Homo sapiens: one gene and its partners. The protein of the gene in region 2 purifies or fractionates together with the protein of the main gene of each other region. This does not show direct contact. Each region holds a gene or a part of one and is shown on either strand. Other genes may lie near its edges.

What was found. The genes of interacting proteins can lie anywhere in the genome.
Region 1: the proteins of OGFOD3 (region 2) and ROR2 purify together in Homo sapiens (affinity purification with mass spectrometry; one large-scale study listed by BioGRID and IntAct). This does not show direct contact.
Region 3: the proteins of OGFOD3 (region 2) and F2RL1 purify together in Homo sapiens (affinity purification with mass spectrometry; one large-scale study listed by BioGRID and IntAct). This does not show direct contact.
Region 4: the proteins of OGFOD3 (region 2) and MPC2 purify together in Homo sapiens (affinity purification with mass spectrometry; 2 studies listed by BioGRID and IntAct, with this or other methods). This does not show direct contact.

Annotation. Positions count from the first base shown.
Region 1 is NC_000009.12:91,940,229-91,943,728, reverse strand, and holds part of ROR2 (tyrosine-protein kinase transmembrane receptor ROR2 isoform 1 precursor), read left to right. Parts: intron 1-3,500. UniProt on the Homo sapiens protein: Tyrosine-protein kinase receptor which may be involved in the early formation of the chondrocytes. It seems to be required for cartilage and growth plate development. Phosphorylates YWHAB, leading to induction of osteogenesis and bone formation.
Region 2 is NC_000017.11:82,391,649-82,394,586, reverse strand, and holds part of OGFOD3 (2-oxoglutarate and iron-dependent oxygenase domain-containing protein 3), read left to right. Parts: intron 1-43; coding exon of another isoform or gene 44-216; exon of another isoform or gene 217-256; intron 257-2,052; coding exon 2,053-2,189; 3' UTR 2,190-2,938.
Region 3 is NC_000005.10:76,817,608-76,821,829, reverse strand, and holds the start of F2RL1 (proteinase-activated receptor 2 preproprotein), read right to left. Parts: upstream 2,801-4,222; 5' UTR 2,648-2,800; coding exon 2,566-2,647; intron 1-2,565. UniProt on the Homo sapiens protein: Receptor for trypsin and trypsin-like enzymes coupled to G proteins.
Region 4 is NC_000001.11:167,920,073-167,923,572, reverse strand, and holds part of MPC2 (mitochondrial pyruvate carrier 2), read left to right. Parts: intron 1-2,941; coding exon 2,942-3,026; intron 3,027-3,482; coding exon 3,483-3,500. UniProt on the Homo sapiens protein: Mediates the uptake of pyruvate into mitochondria.

The sequences.
Region 1 (3,500 bases), on a different chromosome or scaffold from region 2:
TACACAGATGGGGGAAAAGAAACCGTAATGTTGGACTCAGTGCTTTGACGGTGTATCCTCAGCCTACAGGAGAAACAACAACCTGAAAGCAAAACTGGCACCCTTCTTAGTAGGTTTGATTTTCATAGTGGTGTGGGTATATCCATTCTGAAATGACTTTGTGTGAATTGTGAGATTAGACAGATAAGAAGTGTGTTAATAGTGTTGTAGCCAGGGTGCTCACTGAGGAAGGAGGGAGATATAAGGATGGAATAGGGGAAGGCAAGGAAGAATCTGGAGGGGTTGAATTGGAATTGGAGGTATCAGTGTAACTCATGCTTTCATTTATATATATATTTGGTATATATTATGTTAAATTATGCACCGTAATTTGTAAAACATACTCTACACATAACAGTTATTTCTTAGCACCTCATTAGCAGTGAGCTTTCTTAGTGCCCAGATGTTGGTTTCTCAATACTGTTGCATCTTAAAGGAGCTAGAGAACCTTGGAGAAATGACTGAATATGGGATGGGGACAGGGAAAAATACACAATAAGCCTGAAACGTGTTCTTGTGTTAGAACGCAAGTGAGTGGTGAAAAGTGGTGGGGGCATGGCAGATGTACTCAGGGGCCAACTTGAAGGAGTTGCAGCCAAGTCTGGGACCATTTAGGCATCAGAATAAATAAAGACAAGCATGGATTATACAAGGAACAAAATAGGCATCCAGGACTCACCATTGATAATAAGTACATAACTATATGTATGAGTTTCTTAGGCCTGCTGTAGCAAAATGCCATAAACGGGGTGACCTAAAAACCAGAAATGTATTCTCCCACAGTTTTAGAGGCTAGAAGTCCAAAATCAAGGTGGCGGCAGGGCCACGATCCCTCCCAGGGCTCTAGGGGAGAAAACTTTTTTGCCTCTTTTAGTTCCTGGTGGCTCATGGTGCCCTTGGTTTGGAGCTATATCACTTTGACTTCTATCGCCATTTTCACATGACCTTTTATTGTAAGGACACCAGTGATTGGATTTAGGGACCACTGTAAATACAGGATGATTTAATCTCATGTTCCTTATTACTACTGGAAAGACTATTTCCAAATAAGGTCACTTTCTGAGCTTCTGGGTGGATAGGGAAACACTAATTTACTACAAAACCTAAGTGGGAGGGGTGGGGAAGAGAGGGCACTTCCTAGAGCAAAGTGCCAACTGATAAATGGGAGGCGAGTTGGGAATAATCACATTTTACAGCAATAACTGTACGGATTGATTTGGGCAGGCGTCATGAATGAGTGCTAAACTCATTAAAGAAGACATGTTTGATGAGGAGCAGGAAATGTCTGTGGTCTCAAAGGATTTCCCCACAGATTCCTTGTTGGCAAGGGACAGTTGCTAACTGTAGACTGGCGAGATTTGCATCCCAATACCTGGGTGGTCCAGGTTAATGCCACAGATTTGGGCAGATGGATGCCGTCCTTCCCAAGAGCATACATCATTTAGGTTGCTTTCTATCTGGGGAAGAGAGTCTGATTATGAGCAAAAATCAGCAAACGAAATGGAGGGACATTCTATGAAACAATGGTCTGTAGCAAAAATTGTCGAGGACATGAGCGATGAAACAGGGCAGGCCAGGTCCAGCTTGAAGAAGACCACAGGGGCCTGGTGTGGTGGCTCACGCCTGTAATCCTAGCACTTTGGGAGGCTGAGGCCAGCGGATCACAAGGTCAGGAATTCAAGACCAGCCTGGCCAACATGGTGAAACCTCGTCCTCACTAAAAATACAAAAGTTAGCCGGGCGTGGTGACATGTGCCTGTAATTCCAGCTACTAGGGAGGCTGAAGCAGGAGAATCACTTGAACCCGGGAGGTGGAGGCTGCAGTGAGCCGAGATCGTGCCACTACACTCCAGTCTGGGCAGCAGAGCAACACCCTGTCTCAAAAATGAAAGAGAAGAGAAGAGAAGAGAAAGGAGGGCAGGGCGGGGCTGGGCGGGGTGGGGAGACAGTACAATACAGTACACCACAGGGTAGGTAGAGAAGACAGTACAATACAATACACCACAGGGACAAGGCAGTCCAGTGCATGTGCTGGCCCTGACCCTGTGCTGGAGGGAAAAACATGCTGTCGTGGATACTAACGGAACCACTGAGGAAATTGGAAGGTGAGCGTAAGTTATTTAAACGTGTTGTCAGACTTGTCTTTCCTGAGTTTGTTAATTGTGCAGAGGTGGTGTAAGAGGATGTCTGTACTCATAGGACATACACGCTGCCATGTTAAAGGATAAAGGGGCTTGATGTCTCCAGCCTACTATTGTCATCTCAGACCATGATAAAGCCCATGGGGCAAGAGTGACACATTAGTGAACCTGGGCAAAGAGTAGAGGGAAGTTTCATGCACCATTCTTGTAACTTCTCTGTAAAGGCGAAATGGTTTCAAAGTAAAGAATTAAGGCCGGGCACGGTGGCTCACGCCTGTAATCCCAGCACTTCTGGAGGCTGAGGCGGGGGGATCACGAGGTCAGCAGATCGAGACCATCTTGGCTAACACGGTGAAACCCCGTCTCTACTAAAAATACAAAAAATTAGCTGGGCACGGTGGTGGGCGCCTGTAGTCCCAGCTACTTGGGAGGCTGAGGCAGGAGAATGGTGTGAACCCAGGAGGCGGAGCTTGCAGTGAGCCGAGATAGCGCCATGGCAGTCTGGCCTGGGTGAAAGAGCGAGACTCCATCTCAAAAAAAAAAAAAAAAAAAAGAATTAAAAATGTTAAATTCTAACAATGGATGGCTGAAGCCAGTGCAATGAACAATGGAGTTTAGCACATGCTGTTAAAAGAAAGACTCAAGGCCCGGCGAGGTGGTGGCTCACGCCTGTAATCCCAGCACTTTGGGAGGCTGAGGAAGGTGAATCACCTGAGGTCAGGGGTTCAAGACCAGCCTGTCCAAAATGGTGAAACCCCATCTCTACTAAAAATACAAAAATTAGCCGGGGGTGGGGGCTGGGTGCCTGTAATCCCAACTACTCGGGAGGCCGAGACAGAGACAGGAGGATCACTTGGACCCAGGAGGCAGAGGTCACAGTGAGCGGAGATCGAGCCACTGCACTCTAGCCTGGGTGACAGAGCAAGACTCTGTCTCAAGAAAAAAAAAAAAAAAGAATTGCACGTTATGATTTTATTGGAAATGGTGTCACAGGGACTGAGGATGGATGCGATCCAGGTGCTTTTGAGGCCAGACAGCATTTCATTGAAGGGACTGAAAATCTCTGTCTTTGTCTAGTTTCTGGATTGCCCCAAGTTTTCTGATTTTTCTTTCTTAAGATTTTTATTATAGAAATTCCAACACACATAAAATTAGACGACTGCAGTGAACCGCTGTATATTTTTCACTCAGCTTCAACAGTTGCCACGTTCATTTCGTTTCATTTCCCCCGGCCTACTTAACAGTCCCCAGACAGCCTTAATTGTTTACCTGAAAATACTTCAGCATGAATGGTAAGAACTGTTTTTTTCACACCATCTC
Region 2 (2,938 bases):
GGAGTCAACCCTTTACCACACAATCCCTGTCCTGTGTCCCCAGGATGTTTTTGTTTCCGGATGATGTCTTGTGGGTTCCAAGAAGTTAATGGACCGAGAGCCAGTGAAGCTGCTGGTGCGAAGGCTGGAGTCAGGTGTCCTCCGGGGACTCACCACCCGCCCGAGAGGGGAGAGACACATGCGATTCTGGAAGCTGAGAGCATTGCTTATTGTTGATTCCTTGGTTGCCGTGCTGAGTCCTGCTTTAAGGAAGCAGGTGATAATCTAATAGTCATTTACTAAAGAAAGTGCATCTTAGGCCGGGCGTGGTGGCTCACGCCTGTAATCCCAGCACTTTGGGAGGCCAAGACGGGCGGGTCATGAGGTCAGGAGATCGAGACCATCCTGGCTAACACGGTGAAACTACATCTCTACTAAAAGTACAAAAAAATTAGCTGGGCGTGGTGGCGGGCGCCTGTAGTCCCAGCTACTAGGGAGGCTGAGGCAGGAGAACGGCGTGAACCCAGGAGGCAGAGCTTGCAGTGAGCCAAGATCATGCCGCTGCAGTCCAGCCTGGGCAACAGAGCGAGACTGTCTAAAAAAAAAAAAAAAAAAAAAGTCCTTTTCTGGCCCCGTATTGATCTCATCTCCGTCTGAGCCTTCAGTAGTGTGGATGGTGGGTGGTTTCCTGCCTCCCACAGCTCACGAGGCTCAGCTGTCCTCCATCCTTCCCCCTGTCCTTTGGTGCCTCTGTTTGCAAGATGTGCAGAAACACCAGAGGGCCAGAGGAGACCCTCCTTTTACTGAATGCTGGCAGCCTCCTGAGAACCACGTCTGCCAGCAGTAGAGAGCAGAGAGTGTGGACGAGCATGGGCGACTGAGGTCCCAAATGGCGCGAGCCGCTGGGCCCTCCTGCTTGTGCCGATGTCTCAGCCTCGATTGAAGCTGGAAGAAACCAAGGACAATGTGTCCTTTAAAAGTGTAAGGTTAGAAGGTGCCCTGACTCCAGCCGACCTGGAAAAGGACGTGTCCTGCATATCTGGAGGTGGCCCACACGGTCCGGGAAAGATCGGCTGCCTTGCCTGCATCCCAGGGCGCTTCCCGGCCTCCATTAAGAGGTGACCATTGCATCCACGTGATTTCTTTTGCTCCACTATTTCCAGGCACAGTGCAACTGACTCCCTCTTGAAGCTAGAATGCCCTGCACACCCGGGATGGACTTCTCTCCCCTTTCAAAGATCGAGTGAAGTTTGCAAATGTGAAAGGAAGGAATTGCATTTCCAGTGGTAACCTTTGAAGGGGAATGAAATTGTCACAGGACGTCAGGAGCCACGTGGGGGAGCCCGGTGTCCTCTGAGTCTCAACGCCCCTTGCTTCCCACTTGGTGACGGTCGATGGCTGTGTCCAGCGGTGAACGCTTTACCACAGGACTCTACGGTGGGGTAGGCAGCGCCACTTCAATGTGAAGACAAATGAACTGGCGTCTCTTGAGATAGGCCCCTGCCTCCAGGACCTCTCAGGCCCCGGGCCCTGGTTACTGCCGTGGAAGCTGCCTGTTCAGACGTCATCTCTATCACCCCTTGAAGGGAGACAGAGAGGTGTTTGCGAGTTGGATGTTTTATCTTGTCTTTCCTGATTCTTTGTTAGAACACCCCCAGGGCTTGGTTTTTGTTCTCAACCTGTGATTAGAAATAAGATCCTAAAGTGTCAGATCTGGAAGGCCCATGAGAGCTGAGGAGATCAAATGCCCGGAGCTCGGGAGATCAGATGACCTGGGGTGTCTGGAGCCAGTGGTGGCCTCATCTGCAGCATCTTCCTCTGTCCTGCCCACCACAGAGTCCCTGCTGGCCCCGGGGGGCCCCTCCTCCGCCACAGGGCCCCTGAGCATTGCTGCGTTTGTTTCTCCAGCTCCTCCTTCCTGCAGAAGCAGTTCCCAGAGGGGCAATTTCTCCAGCCTGCCTGGTTGGTTGTGTTGATTGGTTATAGTTGCTCTTTCAGGTGACCGCAGACCCTCTGAAGGCTGTGGCCGTGGGTGTGGCTCTATGGCCACCTCTCTCTCTTCTCCTCTCCCAGGTCGCGTCTCCTTCTTCACCTCGGGGTCCGAGAACCTACACCGCGTGGAGAAGGTCCACTGGGGCACCCGTTACGCCATCACCATCGCCTTCAGCTGCAACCCCGACCATGGCATCGAGGACCCAGCGTTCCCGTAGCCAGCAGCCGGGCCAAGGTAACTTCAGGAGGGCCCGTGTGGAGGCAGCCGCGCCAGTCGTGCACCCACCCCCACGTCCACCCGCTCCTGTTGCACAGAGTGCCTTAGGAATTCTCTGATTTTGATTTGCTGACGTGTTAATCTTTTCATCTGTGAGTAAATGAAGGGAACCAGCTTTTCACTTCTCCAGCATCATGTGTGCTTGGGCTGTAGGCCTGGGAGCCTGAGGTGGAGGCCAGGAAAGGGACCCAGCAGGACGGGGCACAAGTCCCCATCTGTGAATGGACGGGACTCATCCACCCAGGTTCAGCAACCCCCCGGGACTCGTCCAGGTTCAGCAACCCCCCGGCCCATCAAAGACTGGCTAAAGCATCAGCCATAAATGGGGACAAACGTGGGGCCAGCAGCTTCTGTTCGGGGTCTCGGCATCAGCAAACCGCAGCAGCTTTGGAGAAGGGTCCGTGAGTGGCGGCTCTGGAGGCAGCAACGGGGTCCTTTGGGGTGGGTGGGAGTTCTGCTGGATTCAGGTGGAGGTGAACATCTGCCGTTCCCACAGCCCTGCGTGCACCCCCAATGCTGCTGGCCCACAAATCACCGTGGGCCACGGCCCCACCACACCAGGCTTGGCCCTGTCAGCGGCCAGCATCCCAAGGGCCAGGGTCCGAGTGTCCTCACCAAGGAGGCTCTTGGCGTCGCTGTGCCGGCTCCCATGGGCCTTCTGCTGGGTCGAGGGTAGGTCTCCTCCTCCCC
Region 3 (4,222 bases), on a different chromosome or scaffold from region 2:
GGTGGGTGGATCACCTGAGGTCAGGAGTTTGAGATCAGCCTGACCAATATGGTGAAACCCTGTCTCTACTAAAAATACAAAAATTAGCTGGGGGTGGTGGTGCGTGCCTGTCGTCCCAGCTACTCGGGAGGCTGCAGCAGGAGACTTCCTTGAGCCCGGGAGAGGTGGAGGTTGCAATGAGCCAAAATTGCACCACTGCACTCAAGCCTGGGCAACCGAATGAGAGTCAAAAAAAAAAAAAACCCAAAAAACCAAAAAAACAAAAAAAAACCACCAAACCAATTATAAAGAAAACAGAAGTTCCAGTCTCCAAAAGATAAATGGAATGACCTAGGCCTGTAACATGGTGGAAAAAAATAAGTAAGTGGCAGAGAGAAGCTGACTGAAATGAACACCACATGGACCAGCCAGGGTACTCTGGGCAAGACTCCTCACTTCATTCATTTGCTATTTACTGAGGTCCCGTAGGTGATGAGACTATGCTAGACGTGATGGAAAGGATGGTAGGGCCCCCTGCCTCCAGGAGTTAACGATGCAGTGAGGACACATATTAAGCATGTTTACCCAAATAATTATCAATTACTATTGTAAAGGGAAAGAGAAGCCCTGATTTCCAAGTGTTTTCCTTGCCTTGCCTCCTCAATTCAGTGTCCTTCACCTGTACCCTGAGAAGGTTGTGATCTCGGCTGAGTTCGTTTCTATGAGGCAGTCTTTTGGAGTGAGGCTTTGGGAAGAAAATCAAACCCCAAATCGGCCCTGCAGCCACCTGAGGGGCACGCAGAAGGACCGGCTAAAAAGCGAGTGAGCAAAGACCCACCCTGAGGGCAGAAAAGCTTTGCTAACACTGTATTTCTTATTAAAATCAATTTAGTTTTAAGGTGGGAGGAAAGCTCCATCTGCCTAAATCAATTGTCAGTGTTACTTCACTAACCCTTTGGGAAAGTTACTTTGCAAGGGAATAAAAGTATGGTGGGGGGAGGATGAGGAACAAGGTGCAATATTAAGTGGCTATAGTTAACAAGTAACCTGATTTTTCCTTATTGTTAAATCAAGTTCGCCTTATAATCCAGGGATCTCCCAATCCCCCAAGAGTAGTAAACAAGAACAAGACAAATAATCGGGGCATGCTTCCTACAGGGATCTCTGAATCATAAAGATGTTGAATCAGCTATACCAACATGTATTTTTTTAAAGTTTGCACATACTAACCTTTGCTCCTGAATTTTAAGTTTCCAACTTTAAAGGACATAGAGGAGAGGTGTCCATTACAGTTTTCAATACTTCCTGGAACTAAATGCCTTTATTCTGATGCTGATTAAGAAAAAAAAATATACCAGCGGTGCACAGTTTTCAAGCTTACACCATTAACACCCTTTTCCCTAACTGCAGAGGGAAAAGAATCACATTCTTCCATCTAATTCCAACCCACTGTGACTTGCTCTTTTACTTCGTCTTTATGAAGAGGAGGATAAAAGTGAGAAATGCGCATTTCTGAGGGAAATTAAAAGCTCCCTTTGCTACCCAGGCTGCCCCAAACAGAGGGGCCTCGGTTAGGATCACAGTGGCGCGATCGCAGGTCAAACATCCCCCACGGCCACAGCGAGGCCTGCTGGGCCCGGAAGAACACACTCCCAGCAATACAAGTTCGAGCACACCCGGAGCAGCACATCCAAGGAACGCGACGGCCGGGCGCAAGTGCTGCTCTGTTCCCAGGCCAGCCAGCCTCTGGCCTGCAGACCTGGGTGGCAGCCAGTGGCCGCTCCGGGTGGCACACTAGGAAAGTCCCGGAACCCCAGGCCCAGAGGGTCAACTGGTCAAATATAAGGCAGGGTCCAAAAAGTTCCGCTCGTAAATCCTCGTGGCGCCCAACGGGCCTGAGCGCTCATTACCACCAGAACCCATCAGGGACCGGCCCTGACTTTCATACCCCGGGCCTTCCACTGTGGGTGCCAGGAGCAGCGGGACCCGGGTGGGTCTCGAACGCAGGGGCCAGAACCCGAAGAAAGGCTTCCAGCAGTTGGAGAGGGACGCAAAAAACAACCTAGAAGGCTCCCGGGCCGCGGGTTCCCACCCACTCCGCCCTGCCCTGCGCAATCAGCTCGCTAACCCCACCGGCCCCGCGGGGCCAGCGGAGGAAGTCTCCGGAGTTGGCAAAAAGCTCTTAATGACTTAGTGTTTACAAAGCAACCAAGCCCGGGGAGGGGACTAGGTCCTCTGCGTACCCTTTAGACACAGCTACTCCTTCCTTCCCTCCCTTTCCCCGAACCCACGCTGGGGCCTGGAGGTGCCCAGCATGACAGCCTCTACGGGAAGTGGGGTCTTTGGGGAAATCTCTGCCTCTGCCCGGCTCCGCTGACTTCAGCTGCTCCCGCATGTCCCACCTGGGTGCCTCCTTGGCGCAGAGACCTCACATCAAAGCCACCAAGGGGAGGCTAAGGGATTCGTAGAGATGGGTGCCGGCAGCAGAACAGCCTTCGCACACCTGCCCGGATCCCACCGTCTGCCCAGCGTGCCCAGGACCCCAGCTCCTCAGAGATAAGAGCCCTCCTTGGCCAGGTTTCTCACCTTGGATGGTGCCACTGCAGGAGAGAGAGGCTGCTAGCAGGATGGCGGCCCCCAGCAGCCACGCCGCGCTGGGGCTCCGCATCCTCCTGGAAGCCCCGACGCCGGGCGCGCGGGGAATCCGCCGCCGCCGATTCGAAACTCAGAGCTCCACTGGACGCACCGAGAGAAAGTCAGCCTCTCACCTGCCCCGAATCGGAGCCTCTGCTGCGCGCCTCCCCAGGGCGGGTTAGGTTTCAGGGAAACCGAAGGAGCAGCGTACTCACCTGCGGGAGGCCACGCCCCGGGACCGGAACGCGCGCCCTGGTCCCGCCCCCGGCCCCCTTCCCTGCGCAGCTGCGCCCTCCGCTTCCCGGACTCGCGCCAGGTCCCTTAGACTGCGGGAGCCGCCTGCGGGCGGGGTTGAGCGCATGAGGTGTCTGCTTTGGAATGCAAATAGCAGGAGCGCTGGGACCACGGGTTAATCCCTGCCTAGGCTATACCGCGAACTACCTTTAATCTTTACTTACTCCTAGAGAAGCGGGTCGTCGGTCTCCCTTGCCTTTCCTGACTGTGGGAAAGCCACGATTCGTACTCACTGCAATTGTGGTTGGTAACTGATACAGACAGGGCTTCCCGGTGCGGTGGACCCTGCAGGAGGAGGGATGCGTTTTTTATTGTAGAGGCAGGTGGGCAACTGCGGACATCACGAAAGCGGTGGGGAGCACAAGAGGCGGGGCGGGAAAGAAGACATGGAATGGCTACTTTCAGCGCCAAGTGCCAAAGCTTTAGAGAATTATCTTGCTTAATCCCCATAACAACCAGCGCAATAAGTATGATTATTCTTCCCATTTTACAGACGAGGAAAGTGAGCTTAGAAAGACCAGATAAATTGGCCAGAGTTACACGACTTATAAACACAGTGTATAAATGTTTATCACATTTCAACTCCAGTATAAGACTATCACTGTCTTCTATTCATCGCTGCACTATAAATGCGTCCACCAGGGCTCCTCTGCATTGGGATCCCATAGGCTAAATAAATACAAAAGCAGATAGAAGGGGTGGGAGAAGAGAAGTGTGGGGTTGGGGATGAGTGCATGAGGGTTGGCATCATATTGGTAATGTCTTACTTTTTGTTTTTGAGACGGAGTCTCGCTCTGTCTCCCAGGCTGGAGTGCAGTGGCGTGATCTCGGCTCACTGCAAACTTTGTCTCCTGGGTTCAAGCAATTCTCTGGCCGCAGCCTCCCGAGTAGCTGGAGTTACAGGCGTGCACCACATCTGGCTAATTTTTGTATTTTTAGTAGAGGCGGGGTTTCACCATGTTGGTCTGGCTAGTCTCGAACTCCTGACCTCGTGATCAGCCCACCTCCGCCTCCCAAAGTGCTGCGATTACAGGCGTGAGCCACCGCACCCAGCATGTCTTACTTTTTATTTGCTTTTTAAAAGATTGAATAAAACAAAGTCTACTGTTACCCATTTAAACTATTGGTACCAGAAGAGCACAGAAGAGAGACATAGGTATTTTCAAATATTTAAAGGATTCGCTTGTAGAAGAGGATTTAGATGTGTTTTGAGTTGCTCCAGAGAGCAAAAATTGGTGGAAGCCACAGTGGGGTTTAATTTCAGCTCAATGTATAAAGAAATTTTCTTTATTTTTTATTTTAATTTCTATTAGAA
Region 4 (3,500 bases), on a different chromosome or scaffold from region 2:
CTCTGTACCCATAATTCCCCATTCTCCTTCTCCCAGTCCCTGGCAACCACCATTCTACCTTCTGTCTCTATGAATTTCACTACTCTAAGTACCTCATGTAAATGGAATCAAAATGTATTTGTCTTTTTGTAGTTGGCTTATTTCCCCTAGCATAATGTCCACAAGGTACATTAACGTTGTCACATGTGTCACTTTCCTTTCTTTTTAATGCTGAATAGCATTCCATTGTATGTATTTACCACATTTTGTTTATTCTTCTATATGTTGATTGGACAATTGGTTTGCTTCCACATTTTTGCTGTTGTGAATAATGCTACCATGAACATTGATGTACAAGAATCTGTTTAAGTCAATACTTTTAATTCTTCTTAGTATACACCCAGAAGTTGAATTGCTAGATCATATGATAATTCTGCTTAATATTTTTTGTTTTCCTCAGCAACTACATTATTTTACATTTCTACCAGCAATTCATAAGTGTTCTAATTTCTCCACATCCTCACCAACACTTGTTACTTTTGATGGGGGAGCATTTTTGTTTTTGTTTTTATGATAGGCACCTAATGGGTGTTAGATATCTTTGTTTTTATTTGCACTTCCCTAATGATTAGTCATGCTGAACATATACTTATTGTACTTATTGGTCAGTTGTGTATATTCTTTGGAGAAATATTTATTCAAGTCCTTTGCCTGTTTTTTAATTTAATCAAGGTGTTTTTTGTTGTTGTTGAGTGATGGGCTGTTGTAATTCTCTTAAATGTACTTTTAAAATGGTTAGAACAATTCAGAAACTCAGTTGTAAATTCAAGTGGTTGAGAATGTTAGAGTTGGAATTGGCTATGACTCAATCTTATGGCCTTGGGCAAGTTTAGTCTCTTTGTCATTTTGTCTCTTCAACTATAAAGTGACAAGATTAGAATATAAGTCATTCGGGAGCTGTATTTTACAGAGATCTAGGGAGCAGGTTTTTTTTTTCATATCTACATATTGAGAAAAGATCCTAAAACCCCCTATACTAATGGAAGTTACATTACCATTTCCTTCTTCTCTCCCTACCTACACTTAAAATTACATAGTAATAATATATCTTTATAGTGGAATTGATTGCTGAAGTATTCAATCATTAAAAGAGTTTGAGTGATTTCATCTATTCACAATAAATTTAGGGGCCTCTTTGATCTCAAATTTACCACAGTTTAGGAGTTTATTGATTTTATCAATAGCTTTGGGGTTTATTTGAACTGGTTCATTACTGTTGTGAGATATTGACAGCATTATATACTCATAAATGCCTTCTTGACTATCTGTCTCTTTAAGAACATCTATTTTAAGTACATGTTGAAATCATACATAGTCTCCAGATGACAGCATAGCAATAGAAACTTCTGTGTTTTGTTCTCTGGTGGGGAGACTTCTTCTATTAGATACTTACCTTATATACCTCTTACTGTGTTTTACTATCCCAGAGTATTTGATAATTAATCTGTAGAATTCTATACATGACACATAACAGTTGCTTCTGCAAGCCACATATGTTCTATAACATGAAGACTCTCAGACCATATGCCTTCAAACATATAACTGTAGTAGAGTCCTTTGTAACCACTTTAGTTGAAACCACATAACTAATCATAAAGGTCAAAGTGGATAATCCTAAAAACAAAAACCTATGTACCTTAAATATTTTATTTTAACCTAAAGGATATAAATATATATTCATTGACAATCAGTCTTTTTTAAAGCTAAATCTTTTATTTGTGTATGGATTTCTGAGCTCCACATTTTCTATCCTGGATAAATTACACTACAGTGCATCCTATATAATTTCCAGCTTAGTTTTTTTAAAAAAAAACAATTTATTAAATCATGTAAATTACATTAACAAGTAAAACTGGCATAAATAGATTGGGGACAAACATAGTGACTTGGTAAAAATACAGCTCATCTGGTGGGAGCAAAAACGCATGAGTGCAATAGAGACAGTGTTAAAAACACAGAAGAGAAATGGCCATGTATATGCTGATGTTAAAGAAAAATGGCGTAACAGCCAAGGCCGGGCATGGTGGCTCACACCTGTAATCCCAGCACTTTGGGAGGTTGAGGCGGGCGGATCACCTGCGGTCAGGAGTTTGAGACCAGCCTGGCCAACATGGTGAAACCCCGTCTCTATTAAAAATACAAAAATTAGCCAGGCATATTGGCACACGCCTGTAATTCCAGCTACTTGGGGGCTGAGGCATGAGAATTGCTTGAAACTGGGAGGTGGAGGTTGCAGTGAGCCTAGATCGCACCATTGCTCTCTAACCTGGGTGACAGAGTGAGACTGTCTAAAAAAAAAAAAATGATCTAACCAAAAAACTAAAATTATAAGTTTTTCTGATATTTATACTTTTAAAAAATAATTCATTAGAAGCCCAAACCTCAGCATCACACAATATACCCATGTAACAAACCTGCACATATACCCCAAATCTAAAATTTAATTTAATTTAAAAATGATAACATTGGCAGAAAACATCAAAGGAAGAATCTATACAAATGACCTTAACAGCTTTTAGGTATCTTCCATGCTAGTGGTTAGTGGTTCCTGACATATATAAAGAGTATATAAATTCATATGTGAAATAGGTAGACCAAAAAAAACCCAAAATATATATGTACGTGTAATGCATACATATACATCTTATCTATATATGTACTACTGACTTTCAGATATGTGAGACTGCTTAGTGTACCTAACAAAATAAAATTAGTTCAAAAAGCAGTTTTTTAATTCATTGTGCTTTTTTTTTGTTGTAATCTACATTTTCTTAATGAATGGACACTAAAATTATAGCTGCTAACTTACGGAAATCTCAAAAATGTCTTGTGCTTGATTTAAAGTTAAAACTATTACTCCACATTTGTGATACTTTTTTTCTTTCTATGCGTTAATGTGTAGGGGTTGGTGTGTGCTGGATTGGCTGATATGGCCAGACCTGCAGAAAAACTTAGCACAGCTCAATCTGCTGTTTTGATGGCTACAGGTAAATTAAATAAATATCTTCTGTGTTTCTTGTAGAACATAAATGATTTTTGTTTTCTTTTATATCAGTTTATTTAGTGGCTTAGTGTTTGAAATACACCCACACACAAAGGAATTAACAGTATTATGTCTAGGAAGTTATTAAGTTATGGATGGAGGAGTCACAGAAAGAATAAGTATCTGAATGGGCTTTTGCTTTTCAGGTTTTTGCCATGAACATATTTTTATAAGTGGGAAGAAAATTACAGTTAATAGTCACTTTAAAGATTCCTCTTTCATGTAAGAATTGAGTATTTTCTGTGACACTAAGTTACAGAAACATTGAAAATTCAGAGTATAGCATTTCTTTGTCCCTCATCCTACATTATTGTTGTAATTACTTTACTCAATATTAAGTATTCACTGAAGTTATTGAAGCAGTATGTATTCTTTTTAAAGTAACATTTTGTTTCAACAGGGTTTATTTGGTCAAGAT